Regions from separate parts of the Homo sapiens genome. Here all the other regions are linked to region 5. Evidence: fine-mapped expression QTL. A gene starts in region 5. Each other region holds a variant in brackets. All regions are shown on one strand. Distances are between the middles of the regions. Region 1 has its middle 7.0 kb from the start of ITPRIPL2. Region 2 overlaps TMC7 (transmembrane channel like 7). Region 3 overlaps TMC7 (transmembrane channel like 7). Region 4 overlaps SMG1 (SMG1 nonsense mediated mRNA decay associated PI3K related kinase). Region 5 holds the start of COQ7 (coenzyme Q7, hydroxylase).

The links. PIP is the estimated chance that this variant, and not a neighbour inherited with it, causes the effect.
Region 1: its variant is fine-mapped to the expression of COQ7 in atrial appendage (GTEx, PIP 0.97).
Region 2: its variant is fine-mapped to the expression of COQ7 in atrial appendage (GTEx, PIP above 0.99).
Region 3: its variant is fine-mapped to the expression of COQ7 in aorta (GTEx, PIP above 0.99). The same link has a PIP of 0.9 or more in esophagus muscle.
Region 4: its variant is fine-mapped to the expression of COQ7 in whole blood (TOPMed, PIP 0.96).

Annotation. Positions count from the first base shown.
Region 1 is chr16:19,104,389-19,109,560 of GRCh38, reverse strand. No RefSeq gene overlaps it. Among named protein-coding and RNA genes, the nearest start is that of ITPRIPL2, 7.0 kb to the left of the region's middle. RefSeq lists enhancers at 459-548, 1,697-1,796, 2,874-3,732. The variant C/T (reference allele first, on the strand shown) is at 2,242.
Region 2 is chr16:19,002,436-19,007,607 of GRCh38, reverse strand. The region is part of intron 1 of TMC7 (transmembrane channel like 7); the gene reads right to left. Among named protein-coding and RNA genes, the nearest start is that of TMC7, 21 kb to the right of the region's middle. The variant T/C (reference allele first, on the strand shown) is at 2,394.
Region 3 is chr16:19,041,765-19,046,936 of GRCh38, reverse strand. TMC7 (transmembrane channel like 7) reads right to left here. Exons shown (of 16, transcript NM_024847.4): 10 at 1,936-2,053; 11 at 1,499-1,596. Among named protein-coding and RNA genes, the nearest start is that of COQ7, 23 kb to the left of the region's middle. The variant T/C (reference allele first, on the strand shown) is at 2,869.
Region 4 is chr16:18,851,728-18,856,727 of GRCh38, reverse strand. SMG1 (SMG1 nonsense mediated mRNA decay associated PI3K related kinase) reads left to right here. Exons shown (of 63, transcript NM_015092.5): 30 at 1,824-2,072; 31 at 2,861-3,145; 32 at 4,266-4,410; 33 at 4,523-4,661. Among named protein-coding and RNA genes, the nearest start is that of ARL6IP1, 53 kb to the right of the region's middle. The variant A/G (reference allele first, on the strand shown) is at 2,668.
Region 5 is chr16:19,065,431-19,070,430 of GRCh38, reverse strand. It overlaps COQ7 (coenzyme Q7, hydroxylase), which reads right to left and starts at 2,817. Exons shown (of 6, transcript NM_016138.5): 1 at 2,694-2,817. The coding sequence starts at 2,766. It overlaps COQ7-DT (COQ7 divergent transcript), which reads left to right and starts at 2,740. Exons shown (of 3, transcript NR_119381.1): 1 at 2,740-2,850. RefSeq lists an enhancer at 2,454-2,603 and a silencer at 2,634-2,793.

The DNA of each region.
Region 1 (5,172 bases), 39 kb before region 5:
GCTACTCAGGAAGCTAAGACAGGAGGATCATTTGAGTCTAAGATGTCGAGGCTGCTGTGAGCTGTGAACTATGATCATGCCACTGCATTCCAGCCTGGACAACAGAACGAGACCCTAACTCTAAAAAAATATAAAAACTAATCTCAGCTCGAGGGTCATACAAACACGCTCAATGTACCTGGAGGCTACTGTCACAAAATACCACAAACCAGGTGGTTTAAGCAACAGAAGTGTATTCTTTCAGAGTTCTCAAAAGCAGGAATCTGAAAGGGTGTCTGCAGGGCTGTGCTCCCTTTTGAGGCCCCAGGGGAGAACCCCTCCTTGCCTCTTACAGCTTCCGGTGGCTCCAGGCGCCCCTTGGCTTGTGGCTATCTGACTCCCATCTCTGCCTACATCTTGCATGGCCTTCTCCTTTTCTGTTTCTTTTCTTTTCTTTTTTTGAAACAGGTTCTCATTCTGTCACCCAGGCTGGGCTGGAGTACAGTGGGTGATCATGGCTCTCCACATCCTTGACCTCACCTCCTGGGCTCAAATGATCCTCCTGCCTTAGCCTCCTTGAATAGCTGTGACTACGGTGTGCACCACCACACCCAGCTAATTTTTTATTTTTTGTAGAGATGGGGTCTCACTCACTGTGTTGCCCAGGCTGCTCTTGAACTCCTGGACTCAAGCAATCCTCCTGTCTCGGCCTCCCAAAGAGCTAGGATTACAAGTGTGAGCCACCGTGCCTGGCCTTCTGTTTCTTATAAGGACACCTGTCATTGGATTTAGAAGACACTGGGGTTATCCCATTGATCTCAACTGGAGATCTGTAATTTAAGGATCCTTAATTTAAAGATTCTTAAATCATGTCTACAAAGACGCTTTTTTTCAAAGAAGGTCACATTCACAGGTTCTAGAGGTTAGGATGAAAACATATATTTGGGAGGACCATAATTCATCCCCGCTACACCGAGTAAATGACGTATTACTATTGCTATTTTTCCTGCCTGTAATCTGTTTCCATAGGTCATTTCCTCTAAAGGGCTCAAGGTACAGGCCTCAGAACTTTGCACTTGGCAAATCTACTATATGTGTCAGAGCAAATACAAATGTATTCATTCATTAATTTACTGCTCATATTTGTGGGTTCTTAACATGTGCTAGGCCAAGGGAAATGTGAAGGAAAACACAGGGCTTTGAGCTTACAGACGAAAATGGTACATACACAGTGTGTAGGTGGATTAAGAAAATTGTCACCGTTGGCCGGGCACAGTGGCTCATGCCTGTAATCCTAGCACTTTGGGAAGCCAAGGCAGGCAGATTGTCTGAGCTCAGGAATTCGTGACTAGCCTGGGCAACATGGCGAAACCCCGTCTCTACTAAAAATACAAAAAATTAGCTGGGCATGGTGTCACACGCCTGTAATCCCAGCTACTCAGGAGGCTGAGGCACGAGAATTGCTTGAACCTGGGGGGCGGAGGTTGCAATGAGCCGAAATCGTGCCACTGCACTCCAACCTGGGCAACAGAGTGTGACACACACCTGTAGTACCACCTACCCATGAGGCTGAGGTGGGAGGTTCACTTGAGCCCAGGAGGTTGAGGCTGCAGTGAGTCATGATTGCGTCATTGCATTCCAGCCTGGGCCACAGAGCAAGACCCGGTCTGAAAACAAACCAAAAAAAAAAGGAACCAAAAACCAAAACTCCTTTAGCATTTAATATTTGACAAAGGTCACTCCTATGGCTTTTGTTTTCAATAGCTTAGCAAGTATATATACAGACACTCCTCCCAGAGTTTCTGATGTCTTGGAGGTGTGTCTCACAGAGGATGAATGTGAGCACTGATGAGAGGAAAAGAGGGAGAAGTGATTCATTTCCCACAGTGGGAGCAGGGGGAGCTCATGGACAGGTAACATGTAACCAGGTTTTGAAGGACAGGAAACGATAGCCCATTTGATGCCTGTATCACACGCCTCCTAGATGTGGCGATTCCTCAGCAGTATCTCTTGAAATGCTCAGAACAAGCCCAATGAGGCAGGTGCTGTTATTATTGCCATTCACATATGAGAAAAGTGAGGACCAGCCTGGCCAACATAGTGAAACCCTGTCTCTACTAAAAATACAAAAAATTAGCTGGGCGTGGTGGTGCACACCTGTAATCCTAGCTGCTCGGGAGGCTGAGGTAGGAGAATCACTTGAACCCAGGAGGCAGAGGTTGCAGCAGGCCGGGATCGCTCACACCAGCCCGGGTGACAGTG[C/T]GAGACTCCGTCTCAAAGAAAAGAAAAAAGAAAAGTGAGGCTGAGAGAGGTTAAGTAACTTATTAGAAAACACTGCAGGGGCCGGGCGCAATGGCTCATGCCTGTAATCCCAGCACTTTGGGAGGCCAAGGTGGGTGGATCACTTGGGGTCATGAGTTTGAGAACAGCCTGGCCAACATGGTGAAACCCTGTCTCTACTAAAGATATAAAAATTAGCTGGGCATGGTGGCACATGCCTGTAATCCCAGCTACTCAGGAGGCTGAGGCGTGAGAATCACTTGAACCCAGGAGGTGGAGGTTGCAGTGAGCCAAGATCGTGCCACTGCACTTTAGCCTGGATGACAGAGCAAGACTCCATCTCAAAATAAATAAATAAAAATAAAAATCACACTCCAGCCTGAGCAACATAGTGAGACCCTGTCATAAAAAAAAAAAAATTAGCTGGGTGTGGTGGTGTATGCCTATTGTCCCAGCTGATCAGGAGGCTGAGGCAGGAGGATCACTTGGGCCTGGGAGGTTGAGGCTGCAGTGAGCCTGATGATTGCACCACTGCACTTCAGCCTGGGTGAGAGGGAGAGACCTGTCTCCAAAAAGTCACACAGCTGGCAAGTCTGACTACAGAGCTGGACTCTTCGTCCCTGTACTTCACTCTTTTACATTGTAAAGGGCTTAATAGGACAGAAAGGAAAAGAGCAGTGTAGTTTATGTTCATGTATATTTCCCTAACCAGATGATGAGGCTCTTGAAGTCAGGGACTTTGCCATATTCATTTTGGTATCCCGAGTAGCCTACGCCATGCCTGGTACTTTACAGAGATTTGTTGAATGAATGAATGAATGAATGAATGAATAGGATTTTGACCAGCAGAAATTCAAGGAGACCATTCCAGGTAATACAAACAAAATGTGCATATGCTTGTGGTCAAGGAGCATGTGACCGCTTGGGGGAACAGGACATCAGTCCTATTGTTACGGAAGTGTAGAATTTTTGAATGGACACCGTGGTTGCACTTACTAGCCATTCATTTCAGCTTTCCTCTAGGGAGCTTCTACAGCAGGAGCTGGGAAGCAAAACACATTCCCACATTTCCTGGCATGAAGACAGGAGCCACCCGAGACACCCGCTTTGCTAGTGTGGCTGGCAGCAGAGGTGGGGTGGTTCTGAAACTCCGCAGCTGGAGCAGGGGCCCTGGTTCTGCAGGCAGCTTCCTGGTGGGGACAGAGGCGGCGGCTTCCTTGGTGGCCCAGTTTCTGCTCTGTGGCTTAAGAGTTATTTCTGGAAGTTCCGCTCAGATTCCTTTACTGCAGCCTTCCCAGTGATTCTCAGACTCTCTGTGATAAATGACCTGTTGCTGGTTTGTTATTTAAAATTTCCTGTTGGTTCTACTCTGCAAGACTATCACATAGCTCATGTCATGTGCAATTCACAGACAACTTAGACTTTTGACGATTATTTTATTAAAAATCTGCTTTTGGCCAGGTGAGGTGGCTGGCGCCTGTAATCTCAGGACTTTGGGAGGCCAAGGTGGGAGTATTGCTTGAGACCAGGAATTCGAGATCAGTCTGGGCAAAAGAGCAAGATCCCATCTCTACACAAAAAAAAATTGTTAATCACCTTGCATGTTCAATATTTGACCAGGCCTATCTTTATTTAGAGATTATCCACACTGACCTGTGCCTAGAAAGATGAGCCTGTCAGTCACACTCTTGTAAATGTCACAGCAATGTCAAGTTGATGCAGATGTTTCTAAACACTCTCAAGGGACTGGACCAGGACCACCAGTAACAAGGGAGCCCAATGCACAACTTTGCCAACAATGCCACCCAGTACTGAATGGCAACCAAGCAACCCATGCCGATCTCTCTTGGGGAGTCTGAATGAATGGGACACAGAAGCCCTGAGGAAGGAGAATTCAGAATTAAGCAGAAGCCGTAAATCAGCAGAAGCTATAGAGTAGGCAAAGGCCAGGGGGCAATGGCAACCTCGGTGGGTCAGGGGAGAGTAGGAAGAAGCAAGGTGACCAAACAGCTGAGTCCAAGAATGTTGGGCTATCGGAGTTGATTTGGGGGCACAAAAGCTGCCGTGGGGCCTGAATGACCTTACAGCTCTTTTTTCTGGCTTGAGTAAGTAGTGCTGTCTGGGTTCCCTGTGATCCTTCTAACAATCCCTGCTGGAGTCTGAGATCGTCCGAATGTGTCTCTTCCTTGCCACCCAGACTGGTTGGATGGTGGCAGCATGGGGTGGGGAGGCTCTTCAGCCCAGATCCTCAGAAAACAGAACCTAAGGGTATGGCTTGCCTATGAGTGTTTTATGGGGAGTGGTTCAAGCCCAAGGAAGCTTTGCAGCAAACACAGCTGGTTCCTCCATCCCCTTCAAAGAGGCTGCACAGAGCCTCTTAATCTCTAAACAGTTGGGGAGAAAAAAGGGCAAACAATTGAGCTGATGATTCTTCCCATCTCCTGTCTCTTGTTGGTCAAAGGATACCCACAGGATATTTACTGCCCCCACTCCGGGCCTTGTCATCGGCTGATGCAGAAGCCAGCGTCCCTGAAAGTCCCTGCCTGTACATGTGGGTGGTCTCTCCTTATCGGTCAGCACCACACAAAGAGGTCCTTAGTCTGTGGCAGGAGTGGCAGCAGCCAGTTCTTTCCAGCTGTGAAAATAGAATGATCCCTTGCTAGAGCTGCGCTTGTTAAGAAACAAGGCAGGCCAGGTACGATGGTTCACACCTGGAATCCCAACACTTTGGGAGACAGAGGCGGGAAGATCACTTGAATCCAGGAATTTGAGGCTAGCCTGGACAACATAGTGAGACCCTGTCTCTACAAAAAATTATTTTAAAAAAATTAGCCAGGCGAGGTGGTGTACACTTGTAGTCCCAGCTACTCAGTGGCTGAGGTGGGAGGATTGCTTGAGCCCTGGGAGGCTGCG
Region 2 (5,172 bases), 63 kb after region 5:
TTAAAGGTGACATTTAGCTAAGGCTGAATGAAGGGAAGGGGTGAGACCCCTGGATATTTGGGGAAAAGCACCCCAGGCAGAGGGAACCCATAAGTGGAAAGGCCCAGCGGCAGAAGAGTGTGTGACAGGTTGGAGGAAGAGTTAATGAGCAAGAACCTGGTGGGCGGTTTCGTTGGTGGCCTCCAATGAGCCACACTGGCCTGGCCCTCTGCGTGGTCCCCTCCTTGAATCTGCACAGGACCTGTGCTTGCTTTAACCAAAGGACTCAATGGAAGTAATGCTCTGCCATTTCCAGCCCAAAGTCATAAGAGGGCCTTGCAGTAGCCACTTCTGTGTTCTCGGGCCAGGGTTACCTGGTAGGAAGTCCAACTGCCTAGGACAATGAGGTGGAGAGGAAGAGCCCCTAAGCCTACAAAAAGAACCAACAACCTGGGTGACTGCAAGAACCAAGGCCCCAGGCTCGTGTCTTCAAACCCCTGGGACAGCCAGGCACGGTGGCTCACACCTGTAATCCCAGCATTTTGGGAGGCCGAGGCAGGCGGATCACCTGAGGTGGGGAGTTCAAGACCAGCCTGGCCAACATGGTGAAATCCCATCTCTACTAAAAATACAAAAAAAAAAAAACTAGCTGCACGTGGTGGCACGCGCCTATAATCCCAGCTACTCAGGAGGCTGAGGTAGAAGAATAGCTTGAACCTGGGAGGCAGAGGTTGCAGTGAGCCGAAATTGGACCACTACACTCCAGCCTAAGCGACAGAGCAAGACTTTGTCTCAAAAAAGCAAAACAAAAGAAAACAAAAAAAACCCCTGGGGCATCCTCACCAGGCATCGCCATGATGAGGCCATCTTGGGTGCTCCAGCGCCAGCAGACATCCCAGGCAGCAGTGCAAGCGGGCTCCCCCGTGCCCTGCATCGTCCCTGATGCACAGAATCAGCAGAAATAACAACATGGCTTAAGCCAGCACATTTGGAGCAGTGTGTTGAGCAACAATAGGTATTTAGGACAGGGAGAATGGAAACGTTAAAGTCAGAGGGGTGGCTGGGGTCGAACCAAGTCAGGCTTTGTAGACTGTGGCAGGACCTTGGGATGTTGTGCTTTGACTGCATTTTAAAAGGTCACCCTGGGCCGGGCACGGTGGCTCACGCCTGTAATTCCAGCACTTTGGGAGGCCAAGGCAAGGGGATCACCTGAGGTTGGGAGTCCAAGACCAGCCTGACCAACATGGAGAAACGCTGTCTCTACTAAAAATACAAAATTAGCTGGGCACGCTAGCGCGTGCCTGTAATCCCAGCTATTTAGGATCGCTTGAACCCAGGAGGCGGAGGTTGCAGTGAGCCGAGATCGTGCCATTGCACTCCAGCCTGGGCAACAAGAGCGAAACTCCGTCCAAAAAAAAAAAAAAAGGTCACCCTGGAGGCTGCAAGGGCAAGGCTGGGGTCAGGACTTGCTACACAGCCTGTTTATGAACATTAAAGGGGATCACATGGGTAGAAGGTCCCAGGCAGTGCTCGGCACACACAGAGCTCCATAAAGGCACCAACCGGATGAGGATGGGCAGGGGCAGGGCCAGGTGGGGACCGGTCAAGGCCTGGCTCTGACACTGTAATCTTTGCCTTTCTCGGATAGGCAAGTTCAGACACAATGGAGCAGCTGTCCCACTGTAGATGACACATGGACACGTGGCTGGGGCCCTGCCAATCACCATGTGCAAGTCTACGAGCCTCACCCACCCTTCTACCTCCCTGCCTGGCACACCCTGAGGATATGACACACTTCCATTAGTGGCAGTGGCTCCCTAGAGCCAATATGAGGGTAGGGTGGGTGTGGTCCCTGAAAAGGAAAAGGGTCTAAGCCCTGCATGGAGGCTACCCTCCTGCAAGCAGAAACAAAGAGCTATTATTAGCCACAAACAAAGGTCTTTGAATATAGAACAGCATGGACCTACTGAATATTCAACAGCTGTGGGGTCAGGGGCCCCAGGCTGGAGCCTGGGTTGGTTTAAAATACTGGCCTGTCACCCACCAGCCAAGCCACCCCAGGAGAGACCACAGCTGCCTCAGAGTCACATTTTTCTCATCTCGGGAATGGAGGATCTAATACCATGGGCCTCATCAGCATGATGGTGAGGAAGGAGTTGCAAACAACATGAACAACACTGGCTAAGATTTATTGAGTACTTGCCTACCTTGTACCAGGCCATTTAAAGTATTTAACATGCGGGCCAGGCGTGGTGGCTCACGCCTGTAATCCCAGCACTTTGGGAGGCCGAGGCGAGTGGATCACGAGGTCAGGAGATCAAGACCATCCTGCTAACATGGTGAAACCCCATCTCTACTAAAAATACAAAAAAATAGCCGGGCATGGTGGCGGGTGCCTGTAGTCCCAGCTAACT[T/C]GGGAGGCTGAAGCAGAAGAATGGCGTGAACCCAGGAGGCAGAGCTTGTGGTGAGCCAAGATTTTGCCATTGCACTCCAGCCTGGGCGACAGAGCGAGACTCCGTCTCAGAAAATAAATAAATAAATAAATAAATAAATAAATAAATAAATAAATAAAATAAAGTATTTAACATGCATCGTCACACTTAATACTCCGAACTACTCTTTAGAGAGAATTATCCCCATTGTGCTGGTGTGGTCTCAGCTACTTTGGGAGGCTAAAGCAGGAGGATTGCTTGAGCCCAGGAATTCAAGACCAGCTTGGTCAACATAACAAGACTCCAATTCCAAGAAAAAAAAAACCCAAAAGACAAACAAAAGAATTATCTCCATGTTACAGATTAATAACTGAGGCTCAGACAATTAGTAAGTGTTGCTTGCTCACACAGTAAGTGTTGGAACTAGGAACCCATCACAGGTTTATCAGACCCCAAAGCTGTAGTCTTCACCATGAAAAAATTCAGGGGGCCATGGATTTAAAAGTGTTTGTAAATGTTAAAATACCGTATAAGCTGGGCACGGTGGCTCACGCCTGTAATCCCAGCACTTTGGGAGGCTGAGGCAGGTGGATCACTTGAGGTCATGAGTTCAAGACCAGCCTGGCCAACATGGTGAAACCCCGTCTCTATTAAAACTAGAAAAATCAGCCAGGCATGGTGGCAAGTGCCTGTAATCCCAGCTACTCAGGAGGCTGAGGCAGGAGAATTGCTTGAAGCCAGGAGGCGGAGGTTGCAGTGAGCCGAGATCACGCCACTGCACTCCAACCTGGGCAACAGAGCAAGACTCCATCCCAAAAAATATATACAAATAAATAAATAAAAATAAAAATAAAATTCCATACAAATCAACTAGGTAATTATCCTGTTTTTCATACACCACCTACCCCCTCCTAGGAAGAACTGTTCTGATTTTTCCTCTTTAGACACTCCAGGGAAGTTCCTCAACTTCAAACAAAAAATGTCACGACCATGTCTTTGAACACAGGCATCATTATTTTTATAACTAGGATCCACCCCCTCGTTTGCATATAACACACACTTTTCCCAGCATGACGTCACCTCATTTCTCACGCCAACCTGCAGAGGTAAGCACAGAGGGCTTCACTTGCCCTGGTATTTTTTTTTTTTTTTTTAAATTTATTTTTTTATTGATAATTCTTGGGTGTTTCTCACAGAGGGGGATTTGGCAGGGTCATGGGACAATAGTGGAGGGAAGGTCAGCAGATAAACAAGTGAACAAAGGTCTCTGGTTTTCCTAGGCAGAGGACCCTGCGGCCTTCCGCAGTGTTTGTGTCCCTGATTACTTGAGATTAGGGATTGGTGATGACTCTTAACGAGCATGCTGCCTTCAAGCATCTGTTTAACAAAGCACATCTTGCACCGCCCTTAATCCATTTAACCCTGAGTGGACACAGCACATGTTTCAGAGAGCACAGGGTTGGGGGTAAGGTCACAGATCAACAGGATCCCAAGGCAGAGGAATTTTTCTTAGTGCAGAACAAAATGAAAAGTCTCCCATGTCTTCTACTTTCTACACAGACACAGCAACCATCCGATTTCTCAATCTTTTCCCCACCTTTCCCGCCTTTCTATTCCACAAAGCCGCCATTGTCATCCTGGCCCGTTCTCAATGAGCTGTTGGGCACACCTCCCAGACGGGGTGGTGGCCGGGCAGAGGGGCTCCTCACTTCCCAGTAGGGGCGGCCGGGCAGAGGCGCCCCTCACCTCCCGGACGGGGCGGCTGGCCGGGCAGGGGGGCTGACCCCCCCCACCTCCCTCCCGGACGGGGCGGCTGGCCGGGCAGAGGGGCTCCTCACTTCCCAGTAGGGGCGGCCGTTGCCCTGGTATTTTTTATTTTTTTTGAGATAGGGTCTTGCTCTATTGCCCAGGCTGGAGTGTAACCTGAATTCCTGGGCTCAAGCGATCCTCCCACCTCAGCCTCCCAAATAGCTGGGACTACAGATGCACACCACTACACCTGGATAATTTTTTTCTTTTTCAGTTTTTAGTAGAGACGGGGTCTTGCTTTGTTGCCTAGGCTGGTCTCAAACTCCTGGGCTCAAGTGATCCTCCCGCCTTAGCCTCCCAAAGGGCTGGGATTACAGGCATAAGCCACCACCCTTGGCCTGCTCTGGCTTTCCAACAGGGAAACTGAGGCCCAGGCATGGTGACTTGCCCAAGACTTGAGTGTCAAGACAGACTCCTGGTTTTACCACAGGTCATTTCACCACTTAGAGCCTTGATGTCCTTCTCATCCTTAAAGAATAAGATCATCTCATTACAGTTATTGTCAGACATTCTACTGAATTGGTCCAGCCAAGAGCCTTGCTGTTGGGATGGCCACTGTAGTCCTGTGGTCAGCGTGGGCTGCTGTTGACCATCTGCACAGGAGCAGGTAGCATATTTCAGATATTGGGGTGCCTCTAAGAATGCCTAGAACTTCTTGGTCACTGGGGCCAGATTTCAGCAATTAGGAGATTATTACTTAGGTAGGAGGATGACTGGGTAATTCCAGGAGACATGAGGGAGCAGGGCCAGGCATAGCCAATTTTTCTGCCATATACTATTCTTCCAGGTTAAGGACAAAGTCTCTCTGAGGCTTAAAAGCGGTGTCTTGCTCACAGAAGGCCCTCCATCCGGGCTGGGCACTGTGGCTCACGCCTGTAATCCCAGCACTTTGGGAGGCCAAGGCGGGTGGATTACCTGAGGTCAGGAGTTCAAGACCAGACTGACCAACATG
Region 3 (5,172 bases), 24 kb after region 5:
GCAGAATATAATGAACTCTGGAATCATTAAGATCAGGTTCCAAGTCTCAGATCTATAGTTCAGCACTGAAATTCATACAATCCTTGACTTTTTTTTTTTTTTTTGAGACAAGGTCTCACTCTGTTACTCAGTATGGAGTGTAGTGGTGCAATCATAGCTCACTGTACCCTCGACCTCCAAGGCTCAAGTGATCCTCCTGCCTCAGCCTCCCAAGTGGCTGAGACTACATGTGCATGCTTGGCTAATTGGCTAATTTTTGTGTTTTGTAGGGACAGGGTCTCGCTATTTTGCCCAGGCTGGTCTCAACCTCCTGGCCTCAAGTGATCCTCCTACCTTGGCCTCCCCAGTGCTAGGATTATGGGTGTGAGCCACTGTGCCCAGGCTTCCATATTTATTTTTAAGGGCTCACTGGACCTCTGGCCTCTGCCTAGATTATCTGCATATGTGGGTAAACAGTGGTTAAGTGAACAGAGAATGATAACAGAAATGACAACACAGTTTATGATAATCATGCTGGTGATAGCTGATGTTTTGTTGAGTTCTATACTGTGGAGTGTTCTCAGTGCTTTTATCTGCATTAATTATCCCAGTTACTCCTCACCACAAAGTTACTGGGTGGGTACTACTACTATCCCCATTTTACAGATGAGAAAATAGGCACAGAGCTTAAATAACTTGCCCAAGGTCACATGACTAGCAAGGAGCAGGGAGGGAGTTTGAACCCAGATCGGGAGACAGGTGTCCACTGCAGCCTGGAAGGTCTGCACCTTTTGTGCTGATGGCAGAAGGTCATCCCCAGCAAAACCTCATGGAAAGCGACCCCATTTCTGCTCTTCATGCTGCCTTTAGATGGGCAACTAATGAATGCTGAGGTCAACAGCCTAGAGCTGCTTGAAAGTTTCCAGTTGTGAACAGACACAATGGTTCAAACCTGTAATCCCAGCACTTTGGAAGGCTGAGGCAGGAGGATCGTTTGAGGCCAGTTCGAGACCAGCCTGGGCAACATAGCAAGAGCCCCTCTCTACAAAAAATTAAAAACTTGGCCGGGCGCGGTGGCTCATGCCTATAATCCCAGCACTTTGGAAGCCCGAGGCAGGTGGATCACGAGGTCAGGATATCCAGACCATCCTGGCTAACATGGTGAAACCCCATCTCTACTAAAAATACAAAAAATTAGCCAGGCATGGTGGCACACACCTGTAGTCCCAGCTACTCGGGAGGCTGAGGCAGGAGAATCGCTTGAACCTGGGAGGCGGAGGTTGCAGTGAGCCAAGATCGCGCCACTGCACTCCAGCCTGGGTGACAGAGCAAGACCCTGCCTCAAAAAAAAAAAAAAAAAAAAAAAGAAAGTTACCAGTTGTCAGATTTCCAGGGCTGTAGAGTCATCCAGCAGCTTCTGGAATGCAGCTGCAATGGGACCCTCCAGTTGTGTGTGTGTGTATGTGTGTGTGTGCATGTGTGTGGTGGGGGGGATAATATGGGCACCCCTCGCACTTACTTTCTAGGAAAATCCACGAAGAGTGTCACAGCCAAGATGATGATGAAGTCGAAGATCATCAGCTTGTACATTTCCTGCCCAACTTGGGTCTCCCAGCACTGAAATCAAAGAGAGTGAGGGAAACTGAAAGACCCTAGCTGAGGCAGAGAAAACCAGGCTCCCAAGACACCTTCTAATTCCCTTTCCAACTCCAGATCCTGTGGCTCCAGTGAGGGCATCAGCTGATGCAAACTCTGAGCCTCAGCACAGACCTTGGTTTCCAAGCCCTCAGAAGTGCCTGGGGTTAGACTCCATGGGGCCAGACTCTGTCTCATCACTAGAACAAGAAAGCGAAGCAAATGCAGTTCAAACCCATGGCTTCAACCGCTGTTCTCTTGACCATGACACTGTATTCCAGAAGGACCCACCCAGCCGAACGCCCCCGCCCCGCAACTCACCGGGTAGAGTTTCTGGTTGTAGCCGCAAAGGTCACATGTGTCATCATCACAGGATGTGATCTTGGAGCCCAGCGTGAACACCAGGACACATATGGTGGCCAGCCGCATAAAGACACACCTTCGGGGAGAGAAGGAGAGAGGATGGGAAGATGAGGCCCTCAGGGTGGCTGGTCCCTTGGAACTGGGGCTAGGGAATGTAGAAGCTGCCTTTTTTTTTTTTTTTTTTTTTTTTTGAGATGGAGTGTTTGCTCTGTTGCCCAGGCTGGAGAGCAGTGGTGTGATCTCAGTTCTCCTGCCTCAGCCTCCCAAGTAGCGGGGATTACAGGTGTCTGCCACCATACCCAGCTAATTTTTTTTCTATTTTTAGTAGATCTGAGGTTTCACCATATTGCCCAGGTGGTCTCGAACTCCTGGCCCCAAGCAATCCGCCTGTCTTGGGCTCCCAAAGTGCTGGGATTATAGGTGTGAGCCACGGTGCCCAGCCCAAAGCTGCCTTTCTTAAAACCCCAGCCAGGCATAGTGGCTCACGCCTGTAATCCCAGCACTTTGGGAGGTAGAGACCAGAGGATCACGTGAGCCCTTAAGTTTGAGAACAACCTGGGCAGTAAAGTAAGACCACCACCCCCTGGCCGTCTCTACAAAAAAATAAAAATAAAAATGAGCAAGGTGTGGTGGTGACCCAGCTACACAGGAGGCTGAGTCAAGAGGATTGCTTGAGCCCAGAGGATTGTTTGAGCCCAGGAGATCAAGGCTGCAGTGAGCGGAGATTCAGCCACTGTACTCTAGCCTCAGGGACAGAGTGAGAAAAAACAAACAAACAAACAAAAAAACCAATGTCGGGCGTGGTGGCTCATGCCTGTAATCCCAGCATTTTGGGAGGCCGAGGCAGAGGGATCACCTGAGGTCAGGAATTCAAGACTGGCCTAGTCAACA[T/C]GGTGAAACTGTCTCTACCAAAAATACAAAAATTAGCTGGGTGTGGTGGCACACGCCTGTAGTCCCAGCTAGTTCAGAGGCTGTGGCAGGAGAATCGCTTGAATCTGGGGCACAGAGGTTGCAGTGAGCCGAGATCACACCACTACACTCCAGCCTGGGCGACAGAGCAAGACTCCATCTCAAAGAAAACAAAAGCAGGCCGGGCGCGGTGGCTCACGCCTGTAATCCCAGCACTTTGGGAGGTAGAGGCAGGCAGATCATCTGAGGTCAGAAGTTCGAAACCAGCCTGACCAACATGGAGAAACCCCGTCTCCACTACAAATACAAAATTAGCTGGGCATGGTGGCACACATCCCTGCAATCTCAGCTACTCAGGAGGCTGAGGTGGGAGAATCTCTTGAACCTGGGAGGCGAAGGTTGCGGTGAGATAAGATCACGCCATTGCACTCCAGCCTAGACAACAAGAGCGAAACTCCATCTCAGAAATAAATAAATAAATAAATAATAAGCAAATGCCTAAATGGGTACAGAATTTCTGTTGGGGCTGTTGAAAAGGTTCTGGAGATGGATGCTGGTGATGACTGCATAACATTGGGGCTGTACTTAAATGCCACCAAATTGTACTCTGACAATGGTTAAAATGGCAACTTCTATGTTACATATATGTTACTACAATTTTTTTAAAAGATCAGAAAGCTGGGACCTCCTAATTCTGTGATGACATAGTGACACTACAAGACATGACACAGTCCTGAAAAGAACCAATGGAATCTTTTCTGTATCAGGGTCGCGGGATGTCTGGCATGCTGAAAAGTGAAAAAAAGTATGCTGCAGAGATATCACATAAATATGATCCTATTTTTGGAAGAAAAAACGTGAGTGTTGGCACAAACATAAGGAACTGTGCAGACAAAAACACACTGGATTCAAGGGAGGTGGGCGGAGACGGTGAGTTTTTGTTCTTGTTTTTTTTTTTAAGACAATTTTCCATTGTTTGGTTTGTAATACAAAAATAAATTAAGTAGCCGGGCACGGTGGCTCACGCCTGTAATCCCAGCACTTTGGGAGGCCGAGGTGGGCGGATCACGAGGTCAGGAGATCGAGACCATCCTGGCTAACACAGTAAAACCCCATCTCTACTAAAAGTACAAAAAATTAGCCGGGCATGGTGGCGGGGGCCTGTAGTCCCGGCTACTTGGGAGGCTGAGGCAGGAGAATGGCGTGAACCCGGGAGGCGGAGCTTGCAGTGAGCCGAGATCGCGCCACTGCACTCTAGCCTGGGTGACAGAGCGAGACTCCGTCTCGAAAAATAAAAATAAAAATAAAAAAATAAATTAAATAGAAACATTTGGCTAACATGGTGAAAGCCCATCTCTACTAAAAAATACAAAAAATTAGCCGGGCGTGGTGCCGGGCATCTGTAGTCCCAACTACTCGGGAGGCTGAGGCAGAAGAATGGCGTGAACCCGGGAGGCGGAGCTTGCAGTGAGCCAAGATCGAGCCACTGCATTCCAGCCTGGGCGACAAAGTGAGACTCCGTCTCAAAAAAAAGAAAAAAAAAAAAAAGAAGGAATAATTTAAAGAATAAGGGAGACTGGGCATGGTGGCTCATAAGCCTGTAATCCCAACACTTTGGGAGGCTGAGGTGGGAGAATTGCTTGAGCCCAGGAGTTTGAGAACAGCCTGGGCAACGTGAGGAGATCCTGTCTCTACAAAAAATTTAAAAATTGGCTTGGCATGGTGGTGTGCACCTGTAGTCCCAGCTACTCGAGAGACTGAGGCAGGAGGGTCACTTGGGCCCAGGTGGTCAAGGCTGCAGTGACCTACGATCATGCCACTGCACTCCAGCCTGGACCCAGTCTCAAAAAAAATAAATAAATAAAATGGAAAGAAAAGAATGGGGGAAAGAGCGAACCCACGCCCTCTGCTCACTGTTCTCATTACTAACACCACCTTCTGTGCCTCTGCTGGGATACAACAGGAAGGACACGGCACCCCTGATGAGGTTTCCTTAACTAAAAACTGACACAGAATCTACCAAAAACTCTGAATCTCCACAGTCATTTATAGCAACTATGGGCATAGAAAAACAAATTAAACACACCAGGAAGAAACAATGGACGAAATCCAGAATAGGAGCTATTCTACAGGAAAATGATCCAGTTTCTTCCACAAATCAAAGGCCTAACAAAAGGGGAGGGGAAACTCTGAAAATAATAAAAGAGATTTAGGACACATGACTACCAAACAGCATGTGGGCCTTGTTTGGATTCAGCTTTGAACAAATCAAACATGGAAAACCAT
Region 4 (5,000 bases), 210 kb after region 5:
TCTGGCAGGGAAAACTGACATCAAACACGGTGACCCAACATAGCAAGACCCTGTCTCTGCTAGAAGAATTTAAAAAATCACCCGGGTGTGGGCTGGGCGCGGTGGCTCACGCCTGTAGTCCCAGCACTTTGAGATGCTGACGGGGGGTGGATCACGAGGTCAGGAGATTGAGACCATCCTGGATAACACGGTGAAACCCCATCTCTACTAAAAATACAAAAAAATTAGCTGGGCGTGGGGGCGGGTGCCTGTAGTCCCAGCTACTTGGGAGGCTGAGGCAGGAGAATGGCATGAACCAGGGAGGCGGATCTTGCATTGAGCCAAGATCACGCCACTGCACTCCAGCCTGGGCAACAGAGTGAGACTCTATTTCAAAAAAAAAAAAAAAAAAAAAAAAATCACCTGGGTGTGGTGGCATGTGCCTATAGTCCCAGCTGCTTAGGAGGCTGAGGTGGGCGGATAGCATGAGCCTGGGAAATGAAGGCTGCAGCGAGCTATGATCATGCCACTGCACTCCAGCCTGGGTGACAGAGTGACACCCGGTCTCAAAAAATAAGAAGGAACAGCAAATAACGAGGGCACCTGATTTAATCCTAGGAATCAGAAAAAGACTTGTGGGGAAGTAACATTTAAGCTGAGAGTTAAGATAAAGATGAGGAAGAAGGCAGGCTGACTTGGTTAGAAAAAACGTGTGCAGGCCAGAGAAAATAATGATTCTTAGTTGACTCAGTTCACCTAAGAGAGAGTAGGAAGAGGTGGAGCGCTGGATGAGATTGAGATTGGAATTGAATGCTGGAAGGCATCAGTAACAAGCTGAATTCAGGAGTTTGGGATTTGTCAGAATGTCAGTGAGAAGTCATCAGAGGCTTTTAAGCAGGGAAGTGAAATGTTCAGATTTACCCTTGTGTAATGTCACTTCAATTGCAAGTTGGAAAATGGATTAGAAGAGTATAAGAATGGGGTCAAAGGGACCTAAGTTATGCTGAAGTCTCTGCTAAAGAGGGTAACTAGGGTGGCAGTAGGGAAAGAAAAAAGCAAATGGGCCATGAGGGTTGAAAGTAAAGTCTGTGATGGTGGCCAAGTACTTTCACAGGCAGCCGGCTCATCCTGTGCCCTTCCTTGAGAAGGGGAAAATGGAAAAAGGGAGTAAAAGATTTGGAGGGTGGTGGAAAATGAGCTCCATTTGGCATGACTGACATTAGAGGAAGCACTCTTGAAATAAATAGAGTGTAGATGACCAGTTGGCAGGTGGGATTCAGATATCAGGTCTGGGTGAAGATTCAGCAGTTGTCAGCATTTCTGTGGTAATTGAAGACACAGGAAAAGATGATGATGTCCAGGGAGAGTATGCAGTGGGAAAAGTAGAGAGCCTAGGACTGAGTCCAAGGAGCACTGGTGTTTAATGGATGAGTGATGGAAGAGAAAGAGACTGAGGATTCTTCAGCAAGATAGGAAGAAAACCAGGAGAATGGTGGAAGGGCAGAGAGTACTTACAGAAGAAGTGCGGGGGGATGGTTTAGCCTTCCCTGCTTCCTTGCTTTCCCTACCCGTTGGCCCAGGCTTTTTGCCAAAGATTCAGAAACTAAAAAGAAATTTCTTGAAATGAATGACTTGACTTTACTTCATTGTATACATTTAATTTAGCAAAACCTGTTCATTGTATCTCAAGCACTGTGCTAGCTGCTAGGGATTTGAGGATGAGTTATCTTTGTTTCAGGAGGTGGTGCAGAAGAGGGATAGTTGGGGAATAATTTTTTGGCCATGTTTCCATGCAGTCTGGTTTAGACAAATTAGGAACTAATAAAACGTTTTCCTCTCTTCAGAACAAACAGTCCCAATTAGAAGCCATCTCATGGAATTAGGTCTAACAGCAGCAAAATTTGCTAGAAAACGAGGGAATGTGTCCCTTGCAACAAGACTGCTGGCACAGTGCAGTGAAGTTCAGCTGGGAAAGACCACCACTGCACAGGATTTAGTCCAACATTTTAAAAAACTATCAACCCAAGGTCAAGTGGATGAAAAATGGGGGCCCGAACTTGATATTGAAAAAACCAAATTGCTTTATACAGCAGGTTAGTAAAATTAATTATGGTTAATACATGAGTATAATAAAAATCATGTATATGAATGTTACTGTGTATGTATGGTATAAGGTAGTAATAGCAAAGTTGATCATTTCCAGCTGTTGCAGAACATTTGCATCCTGAATAATAAGTTGCTTATTACTGACTTACCTTTATAATTCTGTGCTTTCAAAAGAATTTTGTTGCAATGTATTACAGTAAGAAGTATTTCCGGAGATCATTGGTCACTGAATTTACATGTTTTTTTAACTTTATTATTTTGGGCCAGGTGCTTATGCTTACAATCTGAGCACTTTGGGAGGCCAAGATGGGAGGATTGTTTGAGCTTAGGAGTTTGACACCAGCCTGGGCAACAGAGTGAAATCTCAGCTATACTGAAATTCAAAGAAATTAGGGGGGTGTGGTGGAACATGCCTGTAGTTCCGGCTGCTTGAGGGGCTGAGGCAGGAGAATTGCTTGAGCCTGGGAAGTTGAGGCTACAGTGAGCCCTGATTGTGCTACTGCACTCCAGCCTAGGTGACAGAGTGAAACCCTGCCTCAAAAAAAAAAAAAAAAAAAAAAGTTTAGTATTTTGGCTAGGCAT[A/G]GTGGCTCATGCCTGCAATCTCAGCACTTTGGGAGGCTAAGACAGTAGGAGCCTCCTATGCTTGAGCATAGGAGTTTGAAACCATCAACATGGTGGTGTCATCACCATGTTGATATTTGTTTCCTAATCCAAGTGCCTCCCTCCATCATTTGCTTTTAAAGGTTCTAAGTTCTGACTTTGTGGTTTTCTGTAGGCCAGTCAACACATGCAATGGAAATGTTGAGTTCTTGTGCCATATCTTTCTGCAAGTCTGTGAAAGCTGAATATGCAGTTGCTAAATCAATTCTGACACTGGCTAAATGGATCCAGGCAGAATGGAAAGAGATTTCAGGACAGCTGAAACAGGTTTACAGAGCTCAGCACCAACAGAACTTCACAGGTCTTTCTACTTTGTCTAAAAACATACTCACTCTAATAGAACTGCCATCTGTTAATACGATGGAAGAAGAGTATCCTCGGATCGAGAGTGAATCTACAGGTAGAGTTGCTTTATTAGCTTTAGAATATTAATTTTAGAAGCTATATTTTTTTCTGTTTTAAAGTTTATAATGTTATGCTGGCTATAATTTTCCATAAAAAGTATATCTGTGGAAGTTGAGTTTATTTTATTGTTGGGAAATAACTAAAACATATTTAGGATCGAATGCCATTTTGGGAGTCACTGAACTCTGCCCCCAGGTATTTGCTTTTATGGACTTAGATGTTTTTGCTGGCAATAAGATCCTGCCCCTCATATCAAAAAATTTCACCTCACAATAGAAGGAGCAACAAAGATTTAAAATAGTTACCTGTGTTCCTATTGATTGGTGGAACACAGAAACTATATAAAGATTCAAGTTTCCCATTCTGGTGCTAGTGCTAGTAACACAAAGATACCTTACAAATAGGGTAGTTGATTCTGTCCATGTTTGAGTGCCTGTTGTGGAAGGCATAATTCCCCTGTTTTTAAAATTTGAGAGAAAATTTGGGAGATGGTTTTCTTTGCTGAAACATGAGAATATACCTTCATTTTGTTGTTCTGAAGCCTAAGAGTTTAATTACTTACATTGGTGTTAATAATTTTGATAGAGTCTTGATATTCATAAAGGATATGTCTTGTGGTCATTATAAATCTTCATCTTGTCAGATGCACTATAGCAGGCAGTGTCTTCACCTTTAACAAGGGAATAAAGATGTTTGCCTCATGAGTCTGTATGAATGAAACAGTATACTCATCACCTATTTATTATTTTTGCCAGAATGATTAAAGTGAATCTGATCATGAGGAAATAGCCAGTCCGATTCATAATGCAAGACATTCTACAGCACAGCTGACACCTGACTGTTTACAATGTTCAGTGTCATGAAAGATATTGATGTCTTCCACAGGAGATAATATAATCTTACTTGGGAAGCTAATGAATTCATTTCAACATACCAACCTTTTAGAGAACATAATTCATATTTGTGCCTTCTCAAGTTATGTACAGTAATATTTTGGAACTTTTGATTGCTTGCAGATAAAAACCTAAAATGCTAATGGAAATGTCGTTAGGAATTTATGAATGTAACATTGTTGAGTTCTTTTATTATAATTATTTTTTTGTCCATTTTGGCAGTGCATATTGGAGTTGGAGAACCTGACTTCATTTTGGGACAGTTGTATCACCTGTCTTCAGTACAGGCACCTGAAGTAGCCAAATCTTGGGCAGCGTTGGCCAGCTGGGCTTATAGGTGGGGCAGAAAGGTGGTTGACAATGCCAGGTATGTTTAAATGTGTAGTTTATTTATGCATTGCATAAATAGATATTTAAATGTCTGCTGATATGGTAAAGTTTGGGTAGCTGAAATACTGATGACTTGTTTATTTTTATAGTCAGGGAGAAGGTGTTCGTCTGCTGCCTAGAGAAAAATCTGAAGTTCAGAATCTACTTCCAGACACTATAACTGAGGAAGAGAAAGAGAGAATATATGGTATTCTTGGACAGGCTGTGTGTCGGCCGGCGGGGATTCAGGCAAGGAAAACATGGTGCTTGGGGCAAGATTGCTACTCCAAATCATTGATTTTGAGAAAATTGATCATATATATTTGATAAAATACTGAATGGGGCTTACCAATTGTTGTTGTAAATAAAAACTTCTGCATTTTAAGATGAAAGTGAGTTATATTTTTCTAAGAAGAATATACTTTTGAGAAAATAAGGCATTTCCTTAGAGTCCTGTTAAAAATAGGTGAGTTGGCCTGGCACGGTGGCTCACACCTGTAATCCCAGCACTTTGGGAGGCTGAGGTGGGTGGATCGCTTGAGGTCAGGAGTTCGAGACCAGCCTGGCCAACATGGCAAAACCCCATCT
Region 5 (5,000 bases):
ATGTTTTAGGGCTCTTAGCCGTGACTACCATGTCTTTTATGCAAACTTCTTTTCACTTAGGCTAACTTCAACAGCCAGCGAATATGTGGAAAAAATTCATTTTAGATACATATGTGGTTCTTTCATGACAAAGGCTTGAGTGCTTTGGACACAAGGTAGTGAGGTGGGTTGGTGAAATTTGGGGTGGCTCTGAACTTGAAATCTTCTACCAGATGGGGTTGTAAATGTCACACTTTTAACAAAGAAGCGTGGACCTAAGTTCTGAAGCATAGTGACCCAGCTTTGGTCTACTCCTCGCCATGATCCTCTCCATCTCACTGAGCATATCTGACTAAAGAGACTGCATAGGCCGGGTGTGGTGGCTCATGCCTGTAATCCCAGCACTTTGGGAAGCTGAGGCAGGTGGACTGCTTGAGACCAGGAGTTCAAGACCAGCCTGGCCAAAATGGTGAAAACCCATCTCTACCAAAAATATAAAAATTAGCCAGGCATCGTGGCACGTGCCTGTAGTCCCAGCTACTCAGGAGGCTGAGGCAGAACAATCACTTGAACCCAGTAGGCAAAGGCTGCAGTGAGCTAAGATCATACCATTACACTCCAGCCTCGGTGACAGAGTGAGACTCTGTCTCAAAAAAAGAAAAAAAGAAGCATAAAACATGTGTCCCATCTCTAACACTAGCCTTGGGAAAATCAGGATCGACATTTCTTACATATAAAATTGGCTGGGTGCGGCGACTCACGCCTGTAATCCCAGCACTTTGGGAAGCCAAGGAGGGAGAATCACTTGAGGTCAGGAGTTCGAGACCAGCCTGGTCATCATGGCGAAACCCCGTCTCTACCAAAAATTCAAAAATTAGCCAGGCGTGGTGGTGCATGCATGCAGCCTCAGCTACTCGGGAGTCTGAGGCAGGAGAATCACTTGAACCCAGGAGGCGGAGGTTGCAGTGAGCTGAGATCGCGCCACTGCACTCCAGCCTGGGCGACAAAGCAAGACTCTGCCTCAAAAAAAAAAAAAAAAAAAGGCAATAATCAGGCTCTTTCCTTTTTAAGGGAAAACATACAATAATAAACTTTTCTTACTGAGTTATGAGGATAAAATAAGATATAAGAAGCAAAGTAACTTTATAAACAGAAATGAGTCTTATTCTGTTATGCTCACTGGCTGAACAGAGCAGCATTAAAATTCACATTCAACAACCCTCGGAGTTTTGCCTGCATTACCATATACTTTAAAGTAAAATTGAGGCTCGGTGCTAGCTCTCAAATGCATCACTTTATGTCCATATTTTCCCAAAGTGTGAAACATGCCAGTGTGGTACCTACAAAATATTAAGTGGCTTATGGATATGCAGCAAATAACCCCATGTAGTAAGGGGTACTCTTTCAAAATCTCTTGCAATCTCTTTCATTAAGGAAGATAACTCCATTTACAGCTGGTATAGCCTTAACACTTTCCCAACACTTGCTAATTTCCCCTTTGTAACAGAAAGACAGTATTTAATACAATTTCATAACTTTTTAATTTGTTTGTTTTTTTTTAATGATTACTCACCCATTTGTGGCAAGTGGCACTGGCTTCCCATTCACCATAAGGATTTTGTTTCAAGGAAATTAATTTAATTTTTAAATGGGACATAGCTATACAAAAAAACACATCTAGTAATCAAAAGTTCAAGCAGTACTGCCATTAGGCAAAAATCCCGAAAGTGGTACACGGTAATTTAACGTTGAGAAAACGACTTCATGAAATTTCTTTTTTTTTTTTTTTTTTGCGCGGGGGAGACAAAGTCTCGCTCTGACGCCCAGGTTGCAGTGCAGTGGTGCAATCTCGCCTCAAAGCAATCTCTGCCTCCCGGGTTCAAGCGATTCTCCTGTCTCAGCCTCCTGAGTAGCTGGGATTACAGGCACCTGCCATCACGCCTGGCAAATTTTTGTATTTTTAGTAGAGGCGGGGTTTCACCATGTTGGCCAGGCTGGTCTCAAACTCCTGACCTCAGGGGATCCTCCAGCCTCGGCCTCCCAAAGTGCTGAGATTATAGGCCGGAGCCACCGCGCCCGGGCTCATGACAATTTTCTAAGGCAGCACAGATGAAACAAGGAAAGCAGGAACCAGGGTCCAAAACCATGTCTCTCTACTCTAAATTCGATGCTCCTTCCACTACACTGATGGCTTTCACAGTTTACAGTGCATGCAAATCACCTAAAGGTCCTGTTCACAGATCACAGATACCGACCAAGTAGGTCGGGGTGGGGCCCGAGAATCTGTATTTCTAGCGAGCGCCCAGAAGTAGCGGAGGCTGCTGGTCGTCGGGCTACCCTTTGCCTGGCAAGGCCCTGGGCAAAGACTACAAAGAGAGAGACTCCCGGAGACGCTGAATTTTCAGTGTCGCCAACTGTCCTCGACTCGGAACGCTGGCCGCACCTGCCGTGACATCACTGCACAGGGGTGCAATTGCGTCACTCCCCAGGCGTCACTGCCGAAACAACCCCTGTCCTCCTGTCACTCTCGCCGCTAACTACAGACCCCGCCCCGCCCGCCAGCGCCCCGGAGGCCGAAGTCACGCAGTCGCGCTCCGTCGCAGGCCTGTGACGTTACGAACCTCTCCCCCGTGACCTCTTCGACCCAAACCTCAAGCGAAAATTCCCTAGCTCGCTAGACCGGCGCAGGACTGTGACTGCGCGCCTCCTTTTACCTGAGAGGGACCGCCGGGCCCCCGGGCGCAGCCGCCAAAGGCGGGGAGCCGCCGCCGCCCCGGCGCAACTCATTGCCGGAACTAAAAAAAGCAACCACTTCGTTGAACGGAACTGGCCAATAGTGCCCTTGGCTCGGACTGATGACGCACAGCAGACGTAAGGAAGGCTCAGCTCGCCCGCGCACCGGTGGGAACGCCCCCTAGCTCTGCGCTAGGGGTTAGATTGGTTAGATACGACAAATAAAAAGATTTTATTGGGTGGGGTCACTGTCAATCACTCGGAAGACCAAGGCCAAGGCGCCTTGGGTTGCCAGGGAGATGAAAATGCTAAATTGCTGTTTAGAAAGATCAGGACAAGGTTATGATTTCTCACCCAAGTTCCTGGGGAAAAGGATCATGAGGGAATTACTTATTAACAAGGCACGGTATTTCCTGCTTTACCTACGTGGAAGGAGATTTTTTTTTTTATTTGTATCCTACATCTACTTTAAAATAGTAAGCCTGGGCAACATAGCGAGACCCCGCCTCTACAAATAATTTTAAAAATTAGCCGGGTCTGGTGGAGCACACCTGTAGTCCCAGCTACTCGGGAGGCTGAGGTGGGGGGATAGCTTGAGCCCGGTAGCTCGAGGCTGCAGTCAGCCGTGATTCTGCCACTGCACTCTAGCCTGGGCCCTGTCTGAAAAATAAATAAATAAATAAAATTATATGTATATCTAAATTACATGCACCACATGGTTAATGGTGTTATATAGTGTTATCTCTATTGGTGGGCTGAAAGCCAACTTTAAACTTCTTCCCGGTCTTTTCTCTATTTTCAGAAACAGAGAACATGTTTTATCCTTGGTATCCACCTTAATGTACTGTGTGCATGTATGCATGTATATTTGTGCAAATTGGAATTTTTTGAGAAGGGAGGGGAAATTTAGCAACATACTTTAAAAAGATCATATAATACAGCAGTCTTACTTTTAGGAATCTACTCAACGAAATAATTTTTAAATGAGTAATGTACATGAGGGCAAAAATCAAAGATGCGTGTCTGCAAGGATATACAACGTTTAATATTGGCAACATCAGGGGGCTGGAACTGGGAGAAGGGAGCTTTCACTTTCTACTTTACACCCTTGGATTATTTATATACTTTATCCAAGTTTACCATAAAATATTTTAAGATGGAATACAATTGTAAAATTATTGAATTCAAGTTTTTAGTTTTTATATCACTCTAGTGTTCAAATTGACACACCAAAATAATTTAAAATTATGATGAACCCAAATACTACTTAGTGAGGATGTTGTAGCACTCTCATGTAAAACTACTGAGTGTCTGAATCTGGCGCTCAAAAGCCTTAAAATGTTCAAAACCTTTGCTGTAATACCACTTCTAGGTCTCTGTTTCCTTTTTGTTTTGTTTTTTGTTTTTGTTCTTTTTAAATGGAGTTTCACTCTGTCGCACAGGCTGGATTGCAGTGGGGAGACCTTGGCTCACTGGAACCTCTGCCTCCCGGGTTCAAGCGATTCTCCTGCCTCAGCCTCCCAAGTAGATGGGATTACAGGTACACACACCACCACGCCCAGCTGAGACTGGGTTTCGCTGTGTTGGCCAGGCTGGTCTCAAATTCCTGACCTCAAGTGATCCTCCCACCTTGTCCTCCCAAAGTGCTGGGATTATAGGCGTGAGCCGCCACGCCTGGCCTAGGTCTCTGTTTCTAAGGAGAAAAAATGTTGACAAAGATTTATAGATGTGCCCATTATTTATTACTGGGAAAATTTGGAAACAAAATGTTAAGCAACAATTGAATATCAAAACATCATGTCCGAGTGCAGTGGCTCACGCCTGTAATCCCAACACTTTGGGAGACTGAGGCGAGAGGATCACTTGAGCCCAGGAGTTCAAGACCAGCCTGGGCAACACAGTGAGATTCCATCTCTACAAAAAATTTTAAAAATTAGTCAGGCATGGTGGTGTGTGCCTCTGATCCCACCTACTTGTGAGGCTAAAAGGATCACTTGAGCCCAGGAGGTTGAGGCTGCACTGAGCCATGATCACACCACTGCACTCCAGAGTGGGTGATAGACCTAGACTCTGGCTCAAAAAAAAAAAAAAAAATCCAACTGTATGATGTTATGTAGCCCATTGAAATGTTTGTAAAGAGCTTTTAATAACAGGAGAAAACACTAGATTCTTCAGGAAAACACATATTAAGTGAAAAAGAAATTAGAATACCAAAGTTCTTTCCTTCTTTTTCCTTCTTTTTCCCTCCCTCTGTACTTTCTATCTTAAAAAGAATTTTGCCAGGATTA